Homo sapiens: one gene and its partner. The protein of the gene in region 2 interacts with the protein of the main gene of each other region in a biochemical or structural test. Each region holds a gene or a part of one and is shown on either strand. Other genes may lie near its edges. The genes, in order: UTP23 and RRP7A.

Evidence for each region.
Region 1: the proteins of RRP7A (region 2) and UTP23 form a complex in vitro, tested with the Homo sapiens proteins (one study listed by BioGRID).

The regions. Positions count from the first base shown.
Region 1 is NC_000008.11:116,759,789-116,771,799, reverse strand, and holds the start of UTP23 (rRNA-processing protein UTP23 homolog), read right to left. Parts: upstream 5,277-12,011; 5' UTR 5,197-5,276; coding exon 5,009-5,196; intron 1,609-5,008; coding exon 1,434-1,608; intron 345-1,433; coding exon 1-344. UniProt on the Homo sapiens protein: Involved in rRNA-processing and ribosome biogenesis.
Region 2 is NC_000022.11:42,514,958-42,526,634, forward strand, and holds the start of RRP7A (ribosomal RNA-processing protein 7 homolog A), read right to left. Parts: upstream 4,840-11,677; 5' UTR 4,830-4,839; coding exon 4,757-4,829; intron 4,397-4,756; exon of another isoform or gene 3,459-4,396; intron 3,191-3,458; coding exon 3,048-3,190; intron 1,180-3,047; coding exon 1,054-1,179; intron 312-1,053; coding exon 194-311; intron 1-193. UniProt on the Homo sapiens protein: Nucleolar protein that is involved in ribosomal RNA (rRNA) processing. Also plays a role in primary cilia resorption, and cell cycle progression in neurogenesis and neocortex development.

The DNA of each region.
Region 1 (12,011 bases), on a different chromosome or scaffold from region 2:
TTAGATCTGTTCCGAATTCTTTTTCTTTTTCTTTTCTTTTCAGAAGCAGATGATTGTGTGTCCGGTGCCTTTTTCTTTTTCTTCAAACAACTAAGAGGATTGGGACCACTTATTTTCTTGCGCTTTTTTCTTCTACTCTGTTCAGTGTTTTTCACTAAACCCTGTTCCTCTTTGAGATGTTTGATACTTTCTTTCTCATGCACTGAGACAAGCTGACCTGACTCCACTGCTTTTACAAAGGCAATTGTTTTGGGAGAAGGTTTGTCCAAAACCATAGTGTTCTGAATAATAAACATGAGAGGAACTCCAGGCTTCTTTTTTACTTTCACAGACAAATTCTGATCCTATTTAAAAGAAAACAGAATTATTTAGTTCAAATGTCAATTAAGGTACCTTAAATAGGTTTTCAAGAACTGTATTAAAAATAAAAGAGATCACAGATTTTATTTTTCAAATGAGTAAGCCTCACTTATTCATTTGAGTAATGGGGGTATATTTCATGATAAAGGAAGAAAAACATAAAAACTGAGCACAGTGTTAGTAGCAGCTGTGTGAACCGGATTTATCGATACTCTAGAGCCACAAATTACAAACTAATGCAAAGGTAAATGTGTTAGGTGGGTTTCTCCTGTTTCCACTCTAAGATATTCTTTGGAAAGGGTCAAGAATGCTTAAAGAGGTTAAAGGAAAAGAAACTGGGTAGTAATTAGCTACTCAGATTCTAAATTCAGCTCTACCTCTGTGTAATTTTATAATTCTGATAATCAAATCTGTATGTATGTGAACTTAATATCACCCCCAAAAGTCTCTCTTCTCCTGCCTTCAAGAAGATGGGAATATTTTTCTTCAAAAGCCTGAAATATTTCATACTGTTGGTACAGTCTTAAGCAGTATGAACCATGACTTTGAGAAACAGTATGAAATACAGGAACATGAAAAAAATTAACAGAATACAGGCACTTTGCTCTACTTATCTTCCCTTCAAGAACCCTACAACAAATCATCACATCTCATGTCAACAATTTCTTGTTTTAAAAAAAGAAACTTCTGCCAGTGTCCAGCATGATGGCAAACACCTGTAATCCCAGGTACTCAGGAGCTGAGGTGGAAGGATCACTTTAGCCTAGGGGTTCGAGACCAGCCTAGGCAATATAGTGAGACCCTCAAGTCTCAAGAAACAAACAAAAAAAGCAAAACAAAGGAATCATTAAAAAAAACAAAACCCAACCTTCCACTACTAAAAAGAATATCAACATGCTTAAAGTTTTCCTCAAATTCTCAAATGACAATTGCTTTTACTGACTGCAAATTAACTTAGAAGCCTGTATTTTTAAAAGTCTAATCATTCTAACTTTTTTCTGATTATAAATAGCTCCATATGAAGTATAAATAGAAATGGTGAAAATTGCCTGTGGTTTTAAAAGTAGTATCACCTGTGTTGCCACAAAATAATGATGAGGATTTCCCTCTTCAACCATGGAAAGCAGACATTCTGATCCACTCACTGCATTCTTGAAATGAGGACAATTTCGAACTTGGCATTTTTGTGCAATCAGTTTTGCCCCATATAAGTCCTTTCCCAATGTTTCTAGCTCTTTTAACACACATCTGAAAAGAAAAATTATAGCAGATACATTTCACTTGTTTACATAAGGTGTAAAAAACAATAGTCGATTTTTTCTTAAAATAAAACTATGCTGTTACAATCTAAATTTGTCATCTGGTAACCATTTACTTTAAAAGATCACTTGAAAAATGCATTTACCAAGTAGGAAGAACAACAGTTAAAATTAACTGAGCACTTATTATGTTCCATGTAGTATGCAAATTGCTCTTTACATAAATTCTTGATTAATCTCAAAGTAACCCTATGAAGTTAGGTCGCTTACCTTGAAATTATCCTTATTTTAGAGCACCCCATTCTGAGATTTCAAGTAACATGCCAAAGTTCAAGTAACTAGCAAGTGGTACCGAGACTTGCAGTTTGACAACAGCTCCCTTGTCCCAACCATAGCGTAATAAGCTTCTGCTTCAAGTACAAATTGGTATACTTTCAAAACATTTTCAATTCAGAACAGTAAAACTTCTCACATCATCAAGTTGTTTTTAAAAAAACATTTAGTCATAAGAGTTCCTCAACCCTAGCCAGCATTTGCCAGATTCTTTCTTGCTTCATCTCCTTTATCATCTTTCTGTTTCAAGAAGATTTTGCTTGCTTTAGTCATTAGACTTGACCTCTATTTTGAGTACTGCCAGCCTGTGGATGTCCTGCTATCAACTCTTCAAATTCACCATGTCTAAGATCAAACCACTTTCCTGTATCCAAATTTATCCTCCAAGACTTGCTATCTCTTTGAAATTACTATTTTCCCAGACACCCTAGATAGAAATCAGAAATCACATTTGACCTTCCTGCCCTTCTTCACCCATACTCCTATGCCATCAGCTGCTCAACCTATCTATCTCAGTAACGTAGCGTTTCTTTGGAGAACCCTTGGGTTCCTGCCTTTCCTCTCCCAGGTTTAGGCTCCCCTTACTTCTTGATTAAACAACCGCAAAACAGATTCATGCCTTTGCTCTCTTGTTTCTCCAATTTACCCTTCACATCACTGCAGTTATCTTTTCTAAAATAAAACCCAGGCCTGATAACATTCTGCTGTTCTACTTCATCAATTAACTCCACACATCTTCAAACCTGAATATCAGTAAACTCTGTAGAGACCTAACTACTAGTGGCCAAGAAATATATTCCACTGAAAAACGAATGACCTGATTTCTTAAAAACATAAATTGCAAAATTTAAAGGGAGGGGAAACTGCCAAAATTTTTAAAAACTGCCTGGCATGGTGGCTCATGCCTGTAATCCCCATGCTTTGGGGGCCGAGGTGGGTGGATCACCTGCGGTCAGGAGTTCAAGACGAGCCTGGTCAACGTGGTGAAACATTGTCTCTGCTAAAAAATACAAAAATTAGTAGGACGTGGTGTCACACATCTGTAATCTCAGCTACTTGGGAGGCTGATGTAGGGAAATCACTTGAACCCGGGAGGCGGAGGCTGCAGTGAGCCATGATCGCACCACTGCACTCCAGCCTGGGCAATAAAGTGAGACTCCATCTCAAAAATAAATTTTTTTAAAAAACTTAAGTGACATATAAATCAAATGTAATATATGTATTTAGTTTGAATACTGATTTTTAAAAGCCTTCTTTATCTTTTCAAGATACATGCCAAAGAAGTGATAAATAATATGCTCCAAAGCAACCCATCAGTAAGGAGAGGTGAGGGATTCAACAAGATTGGCCATGTTAATAACTGCAAAAGCTGGAGAGAGGTTTCATTATATTATTCTACCTTTGAGTTGTCTGAAAAATTCCAGAGTTAAAATAAATTTGTTAGAAAAATTGCTGTAGAATATAATTTTATGTGGCACTTCTCAACCTTTTTAATATCATAGCACTATATTTAAAATGTTAATATTTCTATGGCACACAGGAGTATATGGACAAATTGCTTGTAGACAAAAGCAATCAATTCAGGAGCAAAGACTACTGAAGGATTTGTTAGACAGCCCTAAAGACTAAGGGGATCAAAACTTTGGGGGTATCTGTAACCCAGCCGAGACCCTGCTTGAGAAATTCTGAACAAATACAGATAGCTGTTCATTAAGTAATCGTATGTGAGGAAAAGGAGACTATTAACACAGTATACACAGAAAAAGCCCATACTTTGTTATGGCTGTAGTTAGAGATGGGGGTTTCCTACGTTGCTCAGGCTCACCTCAAACTCCTAGACTCAGGCAACCCTCCTGTCTCAGCCTCCTGTGTAGCTACTAGGATTACAAGTGTGAGCCACCTTGCCTGGCTTAAAAGTCCATTCTTGTGCTTGTGTGAGTGTGTATAAAGAACTGGATGGATGACACTGCACATGTTAACAGTGATTATTCGTGAGTAGTGGTATTATGAGTCATTTTAATTTTCTTTTTTTGCTTTTTAAAAGTAAATATTCTACAATGAAAAAACTACTAAATTTCTTAATAGTTCTTCATGGCCTAGCCTCAATTTGCCTTCTTCCTAGTTTCACTCCCAAATATATTCTGTGCTGCAACCTCTTTCCCAGGCATTTCATAACTCCATTTCGTGTGAAGAGGTCTCCACAACAAGAAGTGTCATTCTTTTCTGTCATTCAAAATAGTTCTTCCTCTCAGAACTGAACAAGTGAATGGGCTCAAATGTTATCTGAAATCTGTCACAATTCTCTCCTCTCTCCTCTTCATCCCGACAAGCTTCCATCCTAAGTGTTCCCACATTTCAATGAAGTGGGGAAACATCAGACCTAGAGTGAAAACACACACTGCAGACTGACTTATGCACTTTACTGGCCATGAGGGAGCAGTATGTGGCATATAGGAGGTACTTAATAAAGCGAGTTGAATAAACAAATGTGCTTGGGCAGATTCCTTAATCTCAAGTACTGACTTTTTGCCCTGGACATCAAAGATGGTAACTCACAGGTTCACTGTGAGGCTTGCAGAGTTTTGGTTTAAACTAAGAAAAGCTATGCAAATGACAGCAACCATTTGAAGACGGGTACACTTTGGATACCGAAAAATGCTCTAGTACACTATACTCGTTTGAGCTTACAGCAATCTTCTAAGCAGTTATCATCTTTATTTTACAAATGAGGAATCCGAGGCTCAGAGAGGCTAAATAACTTGACAGAAATCACAGAGCTGGTAGAACTGGGATCAAGATTCGAAGTCGGATCTCTCTGCTATAATGTGCTCTCATTCGCCAGGCTAACGACACGTGATATTCACAGGGCACTGTCCAATCTGCCTCTATTATAGGTATTCGCCTGACCACCTTCACCTCTCCACTTAACTGTCAACTCCACGTGGGCGGGGCGTTTTGCACCTCCTGAGCTCGCAATGAAGGTCTGTGAGCAACGGCCTCGCCTCTACAACACCCGACGGACCCTCTGTGCCTCCTCCCCAGCCCCCCGGGCCCACCTTGTGGTGCACAGCTGCGTCTCCCCCATGAGGTAGCGGGGCAGCTGCTCCCGCAGCTGGATGCGGCCCCGCAGCGCCGCCTGACAGAAGGTGCCGTCCAGCAGGATCTGGTACGGCTCGCGGACTCCGAAGTTGTTGCGGAAGAAGCCAAGATGCTTCTTGGCATGTTTCTGCCTTGTGATCTTCATGCCTGGCTTACCGGGACCGAGGCCACCGGACCAGGAAGCATCAGTAAACGCCTCACGCACGCCCCAGTACCCTCAATGCCAGTTTCACCCGGAAATGAAGCGCCTTTGGCCACGGAAGCAAACGCCTCTGTCTTCCGGGCCTGCCCATTGGTTTACGTCATGTCCAGACCAGCGCGCGCTTCCACCGCAGTGCCCGCGCTTAAAGGGGCGGTCCCTTAGGGCGGAACTTGTGCGTACGCTGGAAAACCGCTGGGGTGCGCGATTCCGCACGGGGGCGCACATGCGCAGTCTGGGGCCACGGTAAAAGAAAATTACGAGAATACATTTAGCGTGTTACCTACGTTTTAGAGGCGCGTAGCAAGAGCTTCTCTGAAAGACTGGCAGTATAGTAGTAGTCAGTGATAATATTGAGCCTTAATATGTTCCAGACACTGTCCTAAGTGATTTACCTTACATTATTCCCCTGAATGTTTATAATTCCCAAGTGAAAGAAGGAAATGATATATTGGATAGCTATGAGTGGGGAGGTTTGTACTGGCTGCTTTCCCATAAAGAAATTAAGCACGTTCACGAAGGGCACGTAGTTTGTTAGTGTCTGGAACCCAGTTTTCGTGCCTGAAGTTCAAATGTTCTTGCTACACCACCATAGAAACTAACGTCACTCAGGAACCATTTGTCAGGGCAAAGGGTGCCACCATTTTGCATTTCCTCCTGCCTTAGGACCATCCTAAATCACTCGCATGGAGTGTTTTGGAAGAACTCTCAAGAGCTTCGTTTGCCTAGAGTCAGAATTCCTAACCTTGAGTCCTGGTTTTGCCACAAACCCAAGCCGTTTGATCTTGGGCAACTCCCGAAGAAAGCTGGGTTCAACTTCCTCACTGTCAAACTGGTTGTAGGTCTAGATAAGTTTCAAGTACTCTTTTTATGTGCATGGTCTCTGACATAGGAAGACTACATACTGGGCCAGTAACAGGAAGGCACAAAGCTGACTGGAGGTTTAAAAATTACTTGGTCAATTTGATTAATGAGGAGAATGAATCAGAAAATTTCAAGTTCTCCCGTGGCTAACTGTCGAGTATCCACTTCAAGGTAAAATAATCAAAGAATGGGGAGTATGGAATTTTGCATTTTTGTCCTTGCCTGGAATCTGTCCCAGATCTAGTTTTGGCTAAAGATTGAAAGAACCAGCACAGAAAATGATTTACAACGTGATTGAATGCATTGTTTGCATTTGGGGTTTTATTTCAATATGTAGGTTTATGAAATTGGAATAAGATCTATAATGTTAGCCCTGATCTGAGTCCCAGCACATCACTTAGATGGTTGCTTTCATTTAAACTTAAAATGAATTTAGGAATTGGAAGCCATGAAAACTTTTGCAGGGTTGGATTCAAGGTCTTTGAGTGTAATTGCTCAGTACTTTTCAATTTGAATCCTCTTTTTATCCCTGTATGCCAACTCTCTACTCCAACTATGCGCCCACCACAGACAGAGAAACGAGATACCACCTGAGTCTTGCAAAACAGTTAAAACATTTTTTCTTAAATAGCCTCAGATTTATCTACCAGCTCCTTGGCCACTTTTCAGTACTAAGAAAAATGTGGTGCAGCACTAGGGATTTTAGTCTTATCTTAGTTTTTGTTGTCGTTTTTTAATTTACCAAGCTACAGCACATTTTTTCCCCAAGCTCTATGTATATGACAGTGCCAGTTTGCACCCTATCTTTATTATGAAAACATGAAGATGGTCTATAATGGTGATTATCAAGTTTAAAACAAAGTTTTCGGCCGGGCATGGTGGCTCATGCCTGTAATACCAGAACTTCGGGAGCCCGAGGCGGGAGGATCACTTGAGCCCAGGAGTTGGAAACCAGCCTGGGCAAAATAGGGAGCCCCTGTCTCTGCTAAATTAAAAGAAGACAAAAAGAGAAAAAAATAGAGTTTTCTATTACAGCAGTGTTTCTCAAAACAAGGTCCTGGGATATGCAGAAAAAGCTCTTAGTGTGCTTGTTTAAAATGCCCATTTCTGATTCAGAATAAGTATTGAGGGAGAGGGGTACTATTCAAAGAGGAAGTGACATTTATTACAATCTCCCCAAATCATTATTATGCTCATTAGTGTTCCTGAAGGACCTTTTTTGTAATAAAGCATCGTTTATCCAATAAGATATTTTTATTAATTGGTCCACTTAATACACTTTTGTTTAGATGCCAAATGATCTGTAATGGAAAATCAATATTTAGCCACAACCAAGGCAGAAGCCAAATACTGCCATTATTGAGTGAACCATTTGGATATAAATTTAAATCTGAAATTTTATTTTGAAAGTTATGTCATTATTAAAATATTTAATATTCATTGAAATTTTTTTGACCTTATACTGAAGGAACAATAATTTATAACAGCATTGCTAGTTTTTAGCTTTTTTCTCAGGTCAGTCCACTGGACATTTTCCATGCCAAATAGAAATCCACATTCAGCTGGAGTAAGTAGGCGATTAATTTATTTTTCTTTATTTTTTATGTTCTTCATTTTATTATGTCTGGATCAAATATAGTTTTATAATATTATGCTGTTGTACATGATTTTGAAGTTTTTTTCTTCATGAAATTTTGATGAAGCCAAGTTGACATGAGAATAATTTATTTTTGAAACGTATGACTAATTCCCAAATAGGACTTTCTCATGAAAGATTCATGGCCTAAATGGAATTAAAGAGGTAAACATTAAATATAATTCATAAAGGTTACTTTGTTGAATTTCATCAATGTTAGTATAATTTTGTTTAATTTCGTAAATGTTAGACAATTTAGCTAACATATCTATTGTGGTATTATTCTTCCTTATATTCATATCTAAATATTTATAAACATTTGTTAACATTCATTAGCTCAAAAACAATTTCTACCTAACATTATCTAACATACTGCCTAAATAAATAATTTAGCTAAATAAATATTTTACGACAACTTAGGTAAAGCACTTTGTATTGAGGTCCTATGAGGTTCTTCGCTAAGATCCCCTAGGATAGGCTCCATCATGGAATGCCTTACTGTGAAATTTCAAATATGTCAGAAGGTGTTACAAAGGTCAGATATGGAGGCTGTCACTTTTTAAAATAATCTTTAAAATAAAATAAAATAACAAAAACTTTATGTATTTCAAATTACAAAAATAACATATGCCTCTTAAAACAAGTGGAAGAACATGAAGATAGTAATTTCTTCTCCCCTTGCCCAGATAACACTTTGATGATGTATTATGTATCTCTTGGCAATGTTTCCATATTTACATATTGATATATCATATGCATATATATACAATTTAATATTTATGTAGAGATACTCTGTTATGCGAAATTGAATCATATTTAACAATTCTATACATTTTGCTTTTCTCACCTAACAATCCTGTAGAAATCCCTACACACATCTACCCAAAGTCAATTGGCAGAGTTCTCATTCATTATTTTTAATGGCTGCATGACATTTCTCACAAAACCACCAAATATAACATAATAGATATGACACAGACTATGAATTTTCACCCAATATCTCTTCTCTTCTTTGTAGGAATAGACTCCTGATTTTATTCTGGAGTGTAATGTGCCCAGATAAGCAAATCCATTCCCCAGAATTCTTTTTTTTTCCTTTTCTTTTTGAGACGGAGTCTCGCTCTGTTGCCTATGGTGGAGTGCAGTGGCACAATCTTGGCTCACTGCAGCCTCCACCTCCTGGGTTCAAGCGATTCTCCTGCCTCAGCCTTCTAAGTAGCTGGGATTACAGGCATAGGCCACCATGCCCGGCTAATTTTTGTATATTTAAGTAGGGACCGGGTTTCACTATGCTGGCCAGGCTGGCCAGGCTGGTCTCGAACTCCTGACCTCAAATGGTCCGCTCACCTTGGCCTCCCAAAGTGCTGGGATTACAGGCGTGAGCCACAGCAGCCAGCCCATTCCCCAGCATTCTGTGCAGTTAGGTAGAACCACAGGATTAAGTTCTAGCCAAAGATATGTAAGTGTAAGTGTTGCATGGAATTCTGGGAAGCCGGCTTAAAGGAAGTCAACTTAGCTTGGCAGTGGGCACTTTTGTGTTTTATATCTCCTTCCTTCCTACTCCCTGGAATTTGGATGTGATAGCTTTAACTCCAGCAACCGATTTTAGACCATGAGGTAATTTTGAGAATGGAGGTCATTCACTTAACACTGGCAAAGCAGATAAGAGGAGCTTGGATCGCTCGCAACTGTGAAAGTGTCTTTCCAAACATAGACTTTCTACTTCTGGATTTCTTTTACATGAGAAGAAAAATAAACTTCTACCTTGGTTTTAAAAAAAAGTTATCATAAGTTTATTTTATATGTAGCCAAACTCAATGCTAAATGATAGAGGAAGTTAAAACTACTTGCCAGAATTAGATAATTTTATATGAACAAATATGTTTGATGAGACCTTGATGTTAGCTGATGTCAGTCAATACAATTGCCCTTCCTTTGAACAGGTTCAAAATACTAGTTTATATGTTTCCTCTAAAAGGTGGAAAGTCTTCCAAGTTAAATAAACCAAATCTTTCTTTACATACTATAGAAACTGTCTTGACATTTGTTTCTCTTGAAAGTATAAACAATTTGATTTGAATTTGGTGTGTCAGTGGGATATATCTCCTGTTGAGAAAAGTTAGTTAAATATGAAGAGCCCCAGCTGCTTGGGTAAGGAACATCAAGGAAATGTTAGTGTCATCCAGTTGTCAGTTAAAGAAAGCAAGCGGAATTCATGTATATAGGTCCTGCCAGTATCAGTGAGCTCTTCTTTCAGGTCAAATGACAAAGGAGAAGCTGTCTCTTAGAAAAAGATTTCAAGAGATTTCTGTTTCTCGAGGATATTTCTAAACTAGACAGTAAACAGGAAGTGCCCATCATCAGTTATCAGATGACTATTGTCGGATCACTATAAAATTAGACTAGCAAGTTTGCTTTCTGTAATAATTTATTTGGATGAAATCATACTTAGAACAAATACTACCATGTTAGGTAAATTGAAAGAAATTTATTATTTCTCTAACAGATGTATGTATGTATGTATGTATTTATTTTTTTGAGACAGAGTCTCACTCTGTTGCCCAGGCTGGAGTGCAGTGGTGCAATCTCGCCTCACTGCAACCTCTGCCTCCCGGGTTCACGCGATTCTCTTGCCTCAGCCTCCTGAGTAGCTGGGATTACAGGTGCCCACCACCACGCCTGGCTGATTTTTGTATTTTTAGTAGAAACAGGTTTTCACCATGTTGTCCAGGCTGGTCTCAAACTCCTGACCTCAAGAGATCTGCCCACCTTGGCCTCCTAAAGTGCTGGGATTACAGGTGTGAGCCACCTCACCCAGCCCGTCTCTAACAGATTTAAATAGTGCTCTCCATTGGCATTTTACTACAAAATGTTTAATGGCATTAATTTAAATGGTGAAAATAAAAACTGGTAGAGCAGAGCAAAAAGTTAAGAAATAGTACCAGTGGCAAACATGTTTTACTGTAATGCAAAGCAAACTGCCATTTGAAATTTAATTATTATTCAAACTGATAGAGAAGTTCACACTAAATGGGTCTTTCATTTTAATCTATCAAAGCACTTTAGAAGATTAATGAATCTTTATAAAATTACTCTAGGTAACCAAATATTATTACTGTTACTTAAAGAAGTTTAAAGATTGGAAATTATGTCAGATTACAGCTTTAAAAGGATTTTCTAAAAAACACTATTTATATTTAACAAAATGTTGAAGCCAACTCTTTCACTCATGGTTTTGTATATATTTTTAAGCAGCAGGAGGACTCAGGGCAGAAACTGAACTCCTGGTGGCAAGAAATTAAACATGCTTTCAATAATCCAGTAGAATATTATTTCAAAGTCTAGTATTTATAATTGAATTACACCAATATGAAGTATTAATTACATGATATTATACAAAATAAAAGTCACTCTTACAATCCTCTCAAATTTTTTTTTACTGCAAGATTACTTTGTTTAAATATTAGTTGGTAAGTGATGAATCAAAATACTGGGATGAAAAGTCCAATGTCATTTTAAAAATTATTATTATTTTAGCAAACATACAGAAAATGACCACATGCTAATTCTTATGTGTAAATGAATATTATTTTCTTTTTATTGGCTCCAACTTTATACTCTCTGTAGTTTCTTTCATAACACTGAACAAATTACCTAGCTCTTCAAAGTATAACCTCCCATAGTCTTATTTCACATTTGTAGACAAAAGGAGGCCTATGACTTAAATTGATCTCAATGAGGCTAATGAGCAAGATCTTTTTTCTATGACTGGGGGAGAGGTTTCCTTAAAATAAACAAAACAAAAAGTGTATTGTTTCAATTGCTACTGTGAGCTTGAGATTATAGTGGTAGCCAGTCTTTGGTCAGAACCCAAACATGGCAGGAGACAGAGTCCAGAGAGTCATGAAGTAATGAAACTGTAGTCTTTATGCTGCTTCACTTGGAGTATGCCCTTCTCTAGACATCCAGATCCATGATAGCATATATTTCCCTCTTGTTTAAAATAATTTAAATTGGCAGGCTGAGCATGGTGGCTCGCACCCATAATCCTAGCCCTTTGGGAAACCAAGGTAGGAGGATCACTTGAGCCCAGGAGTTCGAGGCCAGCCTGAGCAACATTGTGGAACTGGTTATCTACAAAAAGTACAAAAATTATTCAAGTGTGGTGCTGTGTGCCTGGAGTCCCAGCTACTCGAGAGGCTGAGGTGGGAAGTTCACCTGAGCCTGGGGAGGTTGAGGCTGCTGTGAGCTGAGATCGTGC
Region 2 (11,677 bases):
TCTGTGCCAGGGGCTCAGGCTAATGACTCCCTGGGGACCCAGACACAGCCCCATGGTCCTCCTGCCCAGGCCTCCACATGCTGCTCTCAGGGAGCATGGACTTGGCTTGTGACATTCAGACACTGTCCCCATAGAGTGTCCTGCCAACCCGGAGCCCAGAAAGGAGGCGCCAGACCCCTCCCGCAGTACTAACTGTGAATGCCACTCTTCACAGGGTGGCTCTCTGTGGACACCAGCAGGGGGCCCTTCAGGGCCAAGGCCGCTGACACCCCACTTGGCTTCTGGAACACCACATAGGCTACCTGGAAACCCTGAAGAGAGAGAGATGTCAGAGGTTGGGGGCTCCTTCCCACGTCTGGCACAAGGTCTCCAGGCCTGCCCTCAGCCTAGGTGGTAGCTACACCAGGGGAGATGGTGCTAGGCTATTCCTGAGCCATGAAGAGAACCACAGGCCATCCCATAATCCAGGTCAGAGGCAGCCACACTTCCAGTAATCCTGCTTCTGCGGGAAGTGACGGCTGTTCCCAACTCCTCCCCAGGAAGAGGGGATACAGAGGCTTCTTTTCTTCCAGTCACGGGAGGGATGCGGTGAAACACAGGGGTCGCCCTGGGCCAGGGCAGGTTTTTGGAAGCCAGGCCTGGGCGCACACACCATGCCAGATGCCACTGTGTGGGGAGGAGGTGTGGGCTCCAGGGCCACTGGGAAAGCTGTGAACAACAGTGCTCCTGGAGACCCGGCCCCCAAGCCTGGGGAAGGAGCTCCCTCAGTGGGGAAGCAGGAGGGGAGCCGGGGAAGGCCCTGCAGGTGGCCAGCAGAGACGGTCCGTGAGCTTTAACACGGGACAGAAAAAGCCAGGCAGGAAGTGCAAGGATGTGGCAAATCTGGCAAAGAATCGCAGGCTTTGTCACCCAGACAGTCTCTTACACCACACACGGTGAGGATGGGCTCAGGACCAGAGAATGCTCTGATGTCCCACTGCCAGCTCCCCCAACACACTGGGGACAGTGCCCCACCCCCCTCACTCTAGTGGAACCCCGGGCTTGGCGGCTCACCGGAACTGGCTTGGGATGAAAAAACTTCGACCTTGACTCCTTTGGGCTCTCAGCCAGGTCCGGCTTCTCCTGCAACTCTACAGACTGGACGAGGCCACAGGTGGACAGGAGGCGGGACAGGCTCTCCTGCCGCAGGGAGAGGGAAGCCAAGTGTGAGCATCCGCAGGGCCATCCCAAAGCCTCCCTGCACCATGGGTGGCGCTGCCAGGGGTCCAGCGCCGCTGAAGGACTCAGCCACAGCCACATCTGCCCAAGCCGGGAGACTGTGGGCACCATGGCCTCCGACCTGTTCCCCAGGGACAATATGGAGGTTGATATTCCTGCTCTTTTTTTTTTTTGAGTTGGAGTATTGCTCTGTAGCCCAGGCTGGAGTCCTGCAACCTCCACCTTCGGGTTGCAAGTGATTCTCATGCCTCAGTCTCCCGAGCAGCTGGGATTACAAGCGCCCACCACCACCACACGTGGCTAATTTTTGTATTTTGAGAAGAGACAGGGTTCTGCCACGTTGGCCAGGCTGGTCTTGAACTCCTGACCTCAGGTGATCCGCCCGCCTCGGCCTCCCAAAATGCTGGGATTACAGGCGTGAGCCACTGTGCCCGGCATATTCCTGCTCTCTCACTGGAGACAGGTGGGGACATTCTTGCTGTTATTCTGATTTCCTATGACAAGTTTTACTACCTGAATCAGCAGTAGTGACCCTATGCTATGACAGTTGGGATGGTGGTTGTCTGTGGTGGAGGCAGCGGGGGTTCTGGGATGTGCTGCTGTGTCTCCACCTGGGCGCTGACTACACAGCTATGTTCTGTCTCTGGGATGCAGCGAGCTGGACACTTGCCACTGGGGCCCTTCCAGGCACACATGCTGCACTTCAAAAAAGGTCAGAACTCACACCCCCTCTTCTACATGCTTCTTTTTTTCTCTAAGTTTAGAGGAATCTTTTACAAATTAGGGTTTCTTTTTTGAAAACAAATCCAGCAATTCCCTTGGCCAGGGGCGGTGGCTCACGCATGTAATCCCAGCACGTTGGGAGGCTGAAGGGGGCGGATTACTTCAGGTCAGCAGTTCGAGACCAGCCTGGCCAACATGGTGAAACCTTGTCTATACTAACAATACAAAAATGAGCCGGGCATGGTGGTGGGCGCCTGTAATTCCAGCTGCTTGGGAGGCTGCGGCAGGAGAATCACTTGAACCCGGGAAGCGGAGGTTGCAGTGAGTTGTGAACGCTGTGCTCCAGCCTGAGCAACAGAGGGAGACTCTGTCTCAAAATAAATAAATAAATTAAATAAATAAATAAATAAATAAATCCAGCAATTCCCTTAGCTTAGTTTTTGTAAAAAAAAAAAAAAAAAAAAAAAATTAACAGTTGTGTTTGGATAGAATTAGAGGCACTTTTTATTTTCTTATACTTTCCTACTTTTAAATTATGGACATGTACAATCTGGAAGAAAACACGTAATTCAGACAACTTTGGGTAATATGTAAAAATGCCTTGGGCTACTTAGGATTGTACTTTTTTCTCTTTTTTTTGAGTCAGAGTCTCACTCTGTTGCCCAGGCTGGAGTGCAGTGGCGCGATCTTGGCTCACTGCAACCTACACCTCCCGGGTTCAAGGGATTCTCATGCCTCAGCTTCCCTAGTAGCCAGGACTACCCACACATGCCATCATGCCTGGCTCATTTTTTATTTTTTAGTAGAGACGGGATTTCACCATGTTGGCTAGGCTGGTCTGGAACTCCTCCCTTCAGGTGATCCGCCCGCCTCAGCCTCCCAAAGTGCTGGGATTACAGGCATGAGCCACCGTGCCTGGCAGGATTATACTTTTAAAGACATCTTTAAAAAGCCAGTTTCCTGACTGGAGATCACGGTAGCCCTCCTGACACTCTCCTCTGGGGCTCCCATTAGCTGTGTCCGTCTCACCACCAAGGACTTGGTGGAGGCCATGGGAGCCCCCACCTTGAGCCCACAGGTCTCCTCCCAGACAGACACTAGCTCACCTCTGTGCAGTATGGGGGCACATTGAGGACAAAAAGAGTCCTCTTCTGAGGCCAGGTGGACTTGGTGCCTTGTCGAACGCCGTGTGCTCTCACATAGAGGTAGTGAGAAGCCTGTTGCTTTTCAGAGAACTTGATTGGAATAGCTGGAAAGGAAATGGGAGGGGAGGGATGGCCAGGCTACCCTGAGCTGAGGCCAGCGAGACACTCACACAACTTCCTTTCTCCACATCCCTGTCTAGTCCTATCTGTTCATCGATCCATCCATCCCTTCACCAACCCCCCTTACCCTACTCTTTGGCAAAGCCTGTGCGGGCTCTAAGAGTCTGCCCAGGAGGGCCTCCCAAGGCGGTGCAGGGAGAGAGAAGATAAATGGGCAATGATTACAGATGGGGGCGCAATGAGAGGGAAGCTCGAACCCTGCGGCTCTTGGAGTCAACGCCAAAATCCTAACCATGGCTGGAAGCCCCGTGAGACCCTGCCTGTCACTGTGACCTCTTCTCGTACCATCTTCCCCCAGCACCTTGGATTCTCTGTTCCCCCGGGTACACCAGGGCCTCACACATGCTGGCCTCTCTACCTGGCGTGTCACCCTCTTCCCTCCCGCTCACCTCAGGTTTAGCTCAAACCTCGCTTCCTCAGGAGAGCCTTAGCATCACCTCCGCCCCTCCTGCCAGCTCAGATCCCACTGCCTGTGCCTTCACAGCTTCTCTTAACAGTCTGGAGGCTATATTGATGAGATTCTTTGGTTAATCGCTGGCACACCCATGACTGTAATCCTCATAAAGCTAGGAACTGCTTCTATTTTTCTCACACCTCCGTCACAGTACCGGTTGGCGTAGAGCTGCGGTCCCTGAACTCAGGAAGCTCAGTTGCAATAACGGAGAAGACAATTAACAAGCATACAGCAAACTTGTATCAATTGTGAAAGAAACATTACAGGGTGATGGGGTGGCAGAGGTCTTCTTTCCATAGGCCATCACGGATGGCCTCTTTGAGGAAGCAACATTAAAGCTCAGGCCAGAACGCCACTGTGCAACAAACCGGCACAGCACGTGCAAAAACCCAGAGGGGGGAAAAAGCATGTTCCCTCAGAGGAACAGAAAGAGCTTTAGGTCGGCACCAGCCAGACCACGTGGCCCACACAGGTTAAGAAGTCTGGTTTTTGTTTTAGAAGCTACCTGATAAAGCCACTGGAGGGAATGCAGTAGGTGTGGCGCCTATCGTGGGCGCGGCAGACATGATCGAATCTAAATGTCCTTAAAAGAACATTCTGGCACGTGGGTGGAGAACAGAAGCAGGGGCAAGAGGAGAAGGAGGGCAACCGAGTAGGAGGGCCTATAACAGCCCAGGTAAGAGCTGATGGGGGATGGACTAGGAGCAGAGGCGATGAGAAGGGGATGGGCTCACCTGGACGAGCGGGTGTGGACGGAAATGGGTTTGTCCTGGGTGAGAGTGTGGACAGAGGCGGGCTCACCCAAGGGAAGCGTGGACCAAGTTGGGCTCGCCCCGGGAGAGTGAGCAGGCAGAAGGGCGCCGCCTGGGTCCTCGGGACCCCGGAGCCTCAAGACCTGCGGAGCCTGGGGCCACGGGCCACCGGGGCTCACACCCAACCGTGCGGCCGCTCCTGGGGACCCCCGGCCGTCGCCAACCCCCAAACACCTCCCGGCGATGCCTGACCGCCCCCGGTCTCGCGTCCCGGAGCCCCTCACCTGCGTAGCCCAGTGGGCTGGGGATACGGTCCTCCGGGTCCCGCGCGGCGCACTTCCTCCTGCGCGCCACCATCTTGCCACCCGGGAGCGCGGGGGCCGCCGGGAGTTGCGGTTCGGCGCCGGCGCGAGCGCGTTTTCGTGGCGCCTGCCCCGCCCCCTCACTCCAAGCCCGCCTCCCCGGCCCCGCCCGCCATGGCCCAACCTTCATCCGCTCAGAGATAAATCAGCGCGCGAAAGTGGGAGCGAATGTCAGAGTTGACCCCGGCCAGTCACGAGTGCGAACTCAGCTTTCCACTCATGCATTCACACGTTGAATAGGCAGTGTGAGAGAAATCCAGGATGGCTGCTAGGTTTTCAGTCTGAGCAACTAAGAGGATGGTGTTGCCATTGACTGAGATGGGAAGACTGCAGGAGAGGGGCCTGCTTGGGGGTGAAAATGGAGTAGATCAGTTCTCTGTGAGCCGTGGTGAGATGCCCATTAGGCCACTCAGGGGACATGTCAGGTGGGCACTTAGATATGAGACTGAACAGACTGAACATCAGAGATGTCAGGCCTGGAGCAATACACACGGGACTGGCCATGGATAGGTTATTGACAGTTACGAGAGGAGCCGGGTGCGGTGATTCATGCCTGTAATCCCAGCAATTTGGGAGGCCGAGGGGGGCGGATCACTTGAGGTCAGGAGTTCCAGACCAGCCTGGCCAACATGGTGAAACCCCGTGTCTACTAGGTACAAAAAGTAGCCGGGCGTGGTAGTGCATGCCTGTAATTCCAGCTACTCGGGAGGCTGAGGCAGGAGAATCGCTTGAACCCAGGAGGCGGAGATTGCAGTTAGCCAAGATCGCCCCACTGCAATCCAGCCTGGGCAACAGAGCGAGACTCTGTCTCAAAAAAAAAAGAAAGAGAAAAAAAAAGAAAGTTATGAGAGGGTGTGATCGCCAAGGGAGCAAGTGTAGATAGGGGAGAAATGAAGTCCAAGGACTCCACTTTTCTGGACTCCAAAGGGCCTCTCAGACTGTGTACCCGCCAGCCCTTGATGTATCTACTATTTCTCTTTTCCCAGTGTACAGTTGCTTCTTGGAAATGCTGTCGGCCCCTTTGGGGAAAGATTAGGAGCCTACTACTGCAAATATTTGTGGTCTGGAGGGGACCCAGCCTCCCTTTCAGTCAGTGACCTCTGGTTCTGAGGCCTAGCTTAGGCCTGGAAACTGGATGAGGGGTTGGGATTTTCCATCAGCAGCTGCCATTACTGTCCTGTTCGCTCGTTTTTTGTTTTTGATCTTTCTTTGCTTAGCGCAGTCAAGCAGTGTTGGGGCTTCCGTGGCCCCTGGGAATACCGTGGTCTACTAGCATTCACCAGAGACTCCTGTGCGCCCAGGATCCCTGGCAGCCACTCTGGCCTTGCTCCTGTTCTGACAGTCACATCAACCGAACCTCTGCTCTCTGGAATCCTATCTCCTGCTGACCTTTCCGAGCCCGGCTCCAGTCCTATTTGCCCTCTTCTACCCTGGCCTCAGAGGACGGCCATGCCGATTGCCCATTGATGCCTAGACCCCCCACTAGTCAAAGCAGTCTCTGGTGAACCCTCCAGAAATACGGTCATCTGGCTTCTCAGATGTTGCATAATAAATCTGTGCCTGCACATCCCCCTCCCCGAGGCCTTTGGCTCCTTCTCAGTGCCCTGCCACCATCGTTCTGTTATCTCCCTCTCATGTATTGCTTCCACGCTTCAAGGAGCCATCTCGATGGATATCAGGACTGGCCACACAACATCACTTTTTTTTTTTTTTTTTTGAGATGGAGTCTCGCTGTGTCGCCAGGCTGGAGTGCAGTGGCGCGATCTCCGCTCACTGCAACCTCCGCCTCCTGGGTTCAAGCAATTCTCCTGCATCAGCCTCCTGAGTAGCTGGGATTACAGGTGTGCACCACCATGACCAGCTAAATTTCTTATTTTTGATAGACACAGAGCTTCGCCATATTGGCCAGGATAGTCTCGATCTCTTGGCCTTGTGATCCGCCCACCTCGGCTTCCCAAAGTGCTGGGATTACAGGCATAAGCCTTTTTTTTTTTTTTTTTTTTTTTTTTTTGAGACGGAGTCTCACTCTGCTGACACCCAGGCTGGAGTGCAGTGCTGCCATCTCAGCTTACTGCAACCTCCACCTCCCGGGTTCAAGCAATTCTCCTGCCTCAGCCTCCCAAGTAGCTGGGATTACAGGCATGTGCCACCACACCCAGCTACTTTTTTGTATTTTTAGTAGAGACAGGGTTTACCATGTTGGCCAGGCTGGTCTTGATCTCCTGACCTCAGATGATCTGCCCACCTCGGCCTCCCAAAGTGCTGAGATTACAGGTGTGAGCCACTGCACCCAGCCTAGAATTCAAGACTCTTGAGCCCATCTATCCAGACGTTCCCTGCCCTAGGTGACAGTGTCCGCTCCTTCACTTCTGTGCTCCTTGACTGGAGCACAGCACTTAGCACAGCCGTTCATCTGCCCTGATTCAAACTCCACAGTTCTCATCAGGTTCTAGGCCTTTATCAGCACAATGTGACCTGTCTTTAAACACGTCTCTGGAAGCCCCTCCTGATTTTCACCTTGGGCTATAAGTTGATAAATGGCTGTCCTGAGGCCTGTTGTTTTCTTCCTTCAGCCCACTGATGCCACTCGATCAATTAACTCCACTTTCTTTATAATTACCACTGCCCATGTATTTCATGGGTCAGGAATTTGGGCAATGCTCTGCTAGGAGATTTTGTTTCTCCCTGTGGCACTGACTGAGGGCATTTGATGGTATTCAGCTGGCATATGGGCTGCACTAAAGGTTCCAAGTCACTTCACTCACATCGCAGCATCTCAGCAGATGAGTCCGGCATCTCAGCAGGGATGGCTGGTGATAGAGTTTGAGTATTTGTCTCCGCCCAAATCGCATGTTAAATTGTAATCCCCAGTGCTAGAGGTGGGGCCTGGTGGGAAGTGTTTGGATCATGGGGGCCTCATGGCTTGGCGCCGTCTTTGCGTCTTTGCGATCGCGAGTTCTCGCGAGATCTGTTTGTTTAAAAATGGGTGGCTGCTTCACCCCCCACTTTGTTGGTCAGGCTTTCACCATGTGAAGTGACCCCTCACACTTCGCCTTCCACCATGAGTCAAAGCTCCCTGAGGCCTCCCCAGAAGCAGATGCAGCCATGCTTCCCGTACAGCCTGCAGAACCAATTCAACGTCTTGGCTTTATAAATTCCCCAGTCTCAGGTATTTCTTCATAGCAGTGCAAGAATGGCCGAATATGGCTGGGCTCAAGTGGGACTTGTCAACTAGAGCACCCACCCATGGATTTCCTAGCATGTGGTCTCAGTAGTCAACTTTTTTTTTTTTTCCTGCTTGCTGGGAGGAGGAGGAGGGAGAAGCGACGGGCTTCATTAGGAACGGTGAGTTTGCGACTCTGCCGCTAAGTGGCAGCTCCAGCTCACCCCCCCAGCTCCCTCCCACAGGCCACGGCTGGGCATGGAGAACTGGTGACTTCAGAGGCCCGGAGAGAAAAGACGGGGGAGAGCGAGGGGCCGCCGTGCCTGAGGTCTGGGGGTGACAGCAGAGGATGGCCAAGGAGTGCAGGGCCAGGTTGCCCTGCCCTGTCTAAGAGAGTCTTACCGAATATAGAGGTTGAATTGTGCTCCCCAAGAGACATGTTGAAGTATGTTTTTTTTGAGATGAAGTCTCACACTGTCTCCCGGGCTGGTGTGCAGTGGGCGATCTTGGCTTGCTGCAGCCTCCACCTCCCGGGTTCAAGTGATTCTCCTGCCTCAGCCTCCCGAGTAGCTGGGACTACAGGCGTGCGCCACCACGCCTGGCTAATTTTTGTATTTTTTTTTTTTTTTTTGAGATGGAGTCTTGCTCTGTTGCCCAGGCTGAAGTGCAGTGGCGCGATCTCGGCTCACTGAGAGCTCCGCCTCCCGGGTTCACGCAATTCTCCTGCCTCAGCCTCCTGAGTAGCTGGGACTACAGGCGCCCACCACCACGCCTGGCTAATTTTTTGTATTTTTAGTAGAGACGGGGTTTCACCATGTTAGCCAGGATGATCTCGATCTCCTGACCTCGTGATCCACCTGCCTTGGCCTCCCAAAGTGCTGGAATTACAGGCGTGAGCCACCGCGCCCGGCCTAATTTTTGTATTTTTAGTAGAGACGGGGGTTTCACGTGTTAGCCAGGATGGTCTCGATCTCCTGACCTCGTGATCTGCCCGCCTCAGCCTCCCAAAGTGCTAGGATTACAGGCGTGAGCCACCGCGCCCAGCCATGTTCAAGTATTAACCTCTCCCTTCCCCCACCACTCTTCCATTCCTGTGAATGTGACCTGAATATGGAAACAGGGTCTTTGCAAATGTAATCAGGTCCTTTCAACTCAAGATAAAATCATCTTGGATTTAGGGTGGGCTCTTTGTCCAATGGCTGGTGTCCTTATAAGATGCCTAGGAGACACACACAGGAAAGAGGGCCATAGGAAGATGGAGGCAGAGATGGCAGTGGTGAGGCTATAAGCCAAGGGATGCCTGTGGCCACTGGACGCCGGAGGAAGTGAGGGAGGATTCTTCCCTAGAACCTTCAGAGGGAGCACAGCCCTGCCGACACCTTGGTGTTGGACTTCTCACCTCCAGAAATCAATTTCTGTTGTCTTAAGCCACCCAGTTTATATTATTTTGTTACAGCAGCCTGGGAAAAGGAATACACTGAATAAGAACCCAAGTGAGCTTATTAGAAAGAATATTGAGGCCTGGCGCAGTGGCTCACACTTGTAATCTCAGCACTTTGGGAGGCTGAGGTGGGTGGATCGTTTCAGTCCAGGAGTTTGAGACCAGACTGGGCAACATGATGAAACCCCGTCTCTACCAAAAATACAAAAATTGGCTGAGTGTGGTGATGCACACCTGTAATCCCAGCTACTTGGGAGGCTGAGGCAAGAGAATCCCTTGAACCCGGGAGGTGGAGGTGGCAGTGGGCCGAGATTAAGCCATTGCACTCCAGCCTGGGTGACAGAACAAGACTCTGTCTCAAAAAAGGAAAGAATGTTAAACCTCCTCAAGAGGAGGTAAGCGATTTTAAACACTCTGAAGCCACGCAGGGGTAACCCTTTTACAAGCCAAGAGGAGGAGAAGGAAAAATTGAAGTCACTTTTTTTTTTTTTTGAGATGGAGTCTCACTCTGTCACCCAGGCTGGAGTGCAATGGTGTGATCTCGGCTCACTGCAAGCTCCGCCTCCCGGGTTCACACCATTCTCCTGCCTCAGCCTCCTGAGTAGCTGGGACTACAGGCACCCGCCACCACGCCCGGCTACTTTTTGTATTTTTAGTAGAGACAGGGTTTCACCATGTTGGCCATGATGGTCTCGATCTCTTGACCTTGTGATCCGCCCGCCTCGGCCTCCCAAAGTGCTGGTATTACAGGCATAAGCCACTGTGCCCAGCCTCAATTTTTCTTTTTTAATGGTTAAAAAATACTTTCAAATGTCCACACAGTAAAATTCACTTCTTTTGGTATATAGTTCAAATGCATAGAGTCCTATCACCATGACCACAGTCAAGATAGGGAACATCCCGTCACTCCCAGAACTCCCGTGCTGCCGCTGGCAACCACTGCTCTGTTCTCCCGTTGCTTTTCCAGCGAGTCCTGAAAGTGGAATCGTGCGAGTCCAGGTTCTTTCACTGAGCATCGTGATTTGAGGTTCACCCACATTGTTGTATGGTTCCTTTTCATTGCTGAGAAATGTTCCACTGTCTGGATGGAGTGTGGTCTATTTATCTATTCACCAAGTAAAGGATGTGGGCGATTTCCAGGTTTCGACGATTATGAATAAGCTGCTGTAACATTCACGCACAGGTGTTTGTATGAATGGAAGTTTTCACTTCTCTTGGGTGAATACCTGGGAGTGGGGTTTCTGGGTCCCGATCGGGTTTCTAGTGGTCTGTAAGTCAGACTTGCTAAGAGTTTTCGTTGGGGAGACGCACACAGGTAAGGTCAGCTCTCAGGGTCCTTTCTGCAATGCGGGGATGTCGAGGTCACCTGACAGAGGGGCAAATGCCAGCTGGTCGCCCAACCTGCTCTTGTCCGTTCCTTTTCCCTCAGAAGCTAATAGAGGAAAGTAAACCTGTTGTTTCACTCTCATTTCCTTTTATTTTCATTAATATTAGGAAATGCCAAGATTAGTGAAAGAATGAAAAGATGAGTCAAGGCCAGGCATGGTGGCTCACACCCGTAATCCCAGCATTTTGGGAGGCCGAGGCGGGCAGATCACGAGGTCGAGAGATCGAGACCATCCTGGCCAACATGGTGAAACCCTGTCTCTACTAAAAATATAAAAAGTAGCTAGGCGTGGTGGCGCGCACCTATAATCCTAGCTACTCAAGAGTCTGGGGCAGGAGAATCTCTTGAACTCAGGAGGCGGAGGTTACAGTGGCCTGAGATCACGCCACCATACTCCAGCCTGGGCAACAGAGCGAGACTCTGTCTCACACAGACACACACACACACACACACACACACACAAAAGATGAATCAAAACAGCCTAGAAAAGGCTTCAGTGATCCTCAGACTGGATGATCGAATCCCGAATAATGGGGAATCAACAGTAATGGCCTAGTAACACTTTTAAAAAGTCTTCTTTCTTTTTTTAAGAGATGGGGTCTCACTGTGTTGCCCAGGCTAGTCTCAAACTTCCAGGCTCAACCAATCCTCCTACCTTGGCTTCCTAAAGTGCTAATATTACAGGTTTGAGCCACTCAGCCCAGCCCCAAATCCTTATTATATCCTATTTGTTTGCTTTGCATGGAAGTTTATACTTACTTCCATCCCACCCTTAACATAACTGCAGAGGGAATTTCTTTTTTTTTTTTTTGAGACAAGATTTTGTTCTGTCAGCCAGGCTGGGGTGCAGTG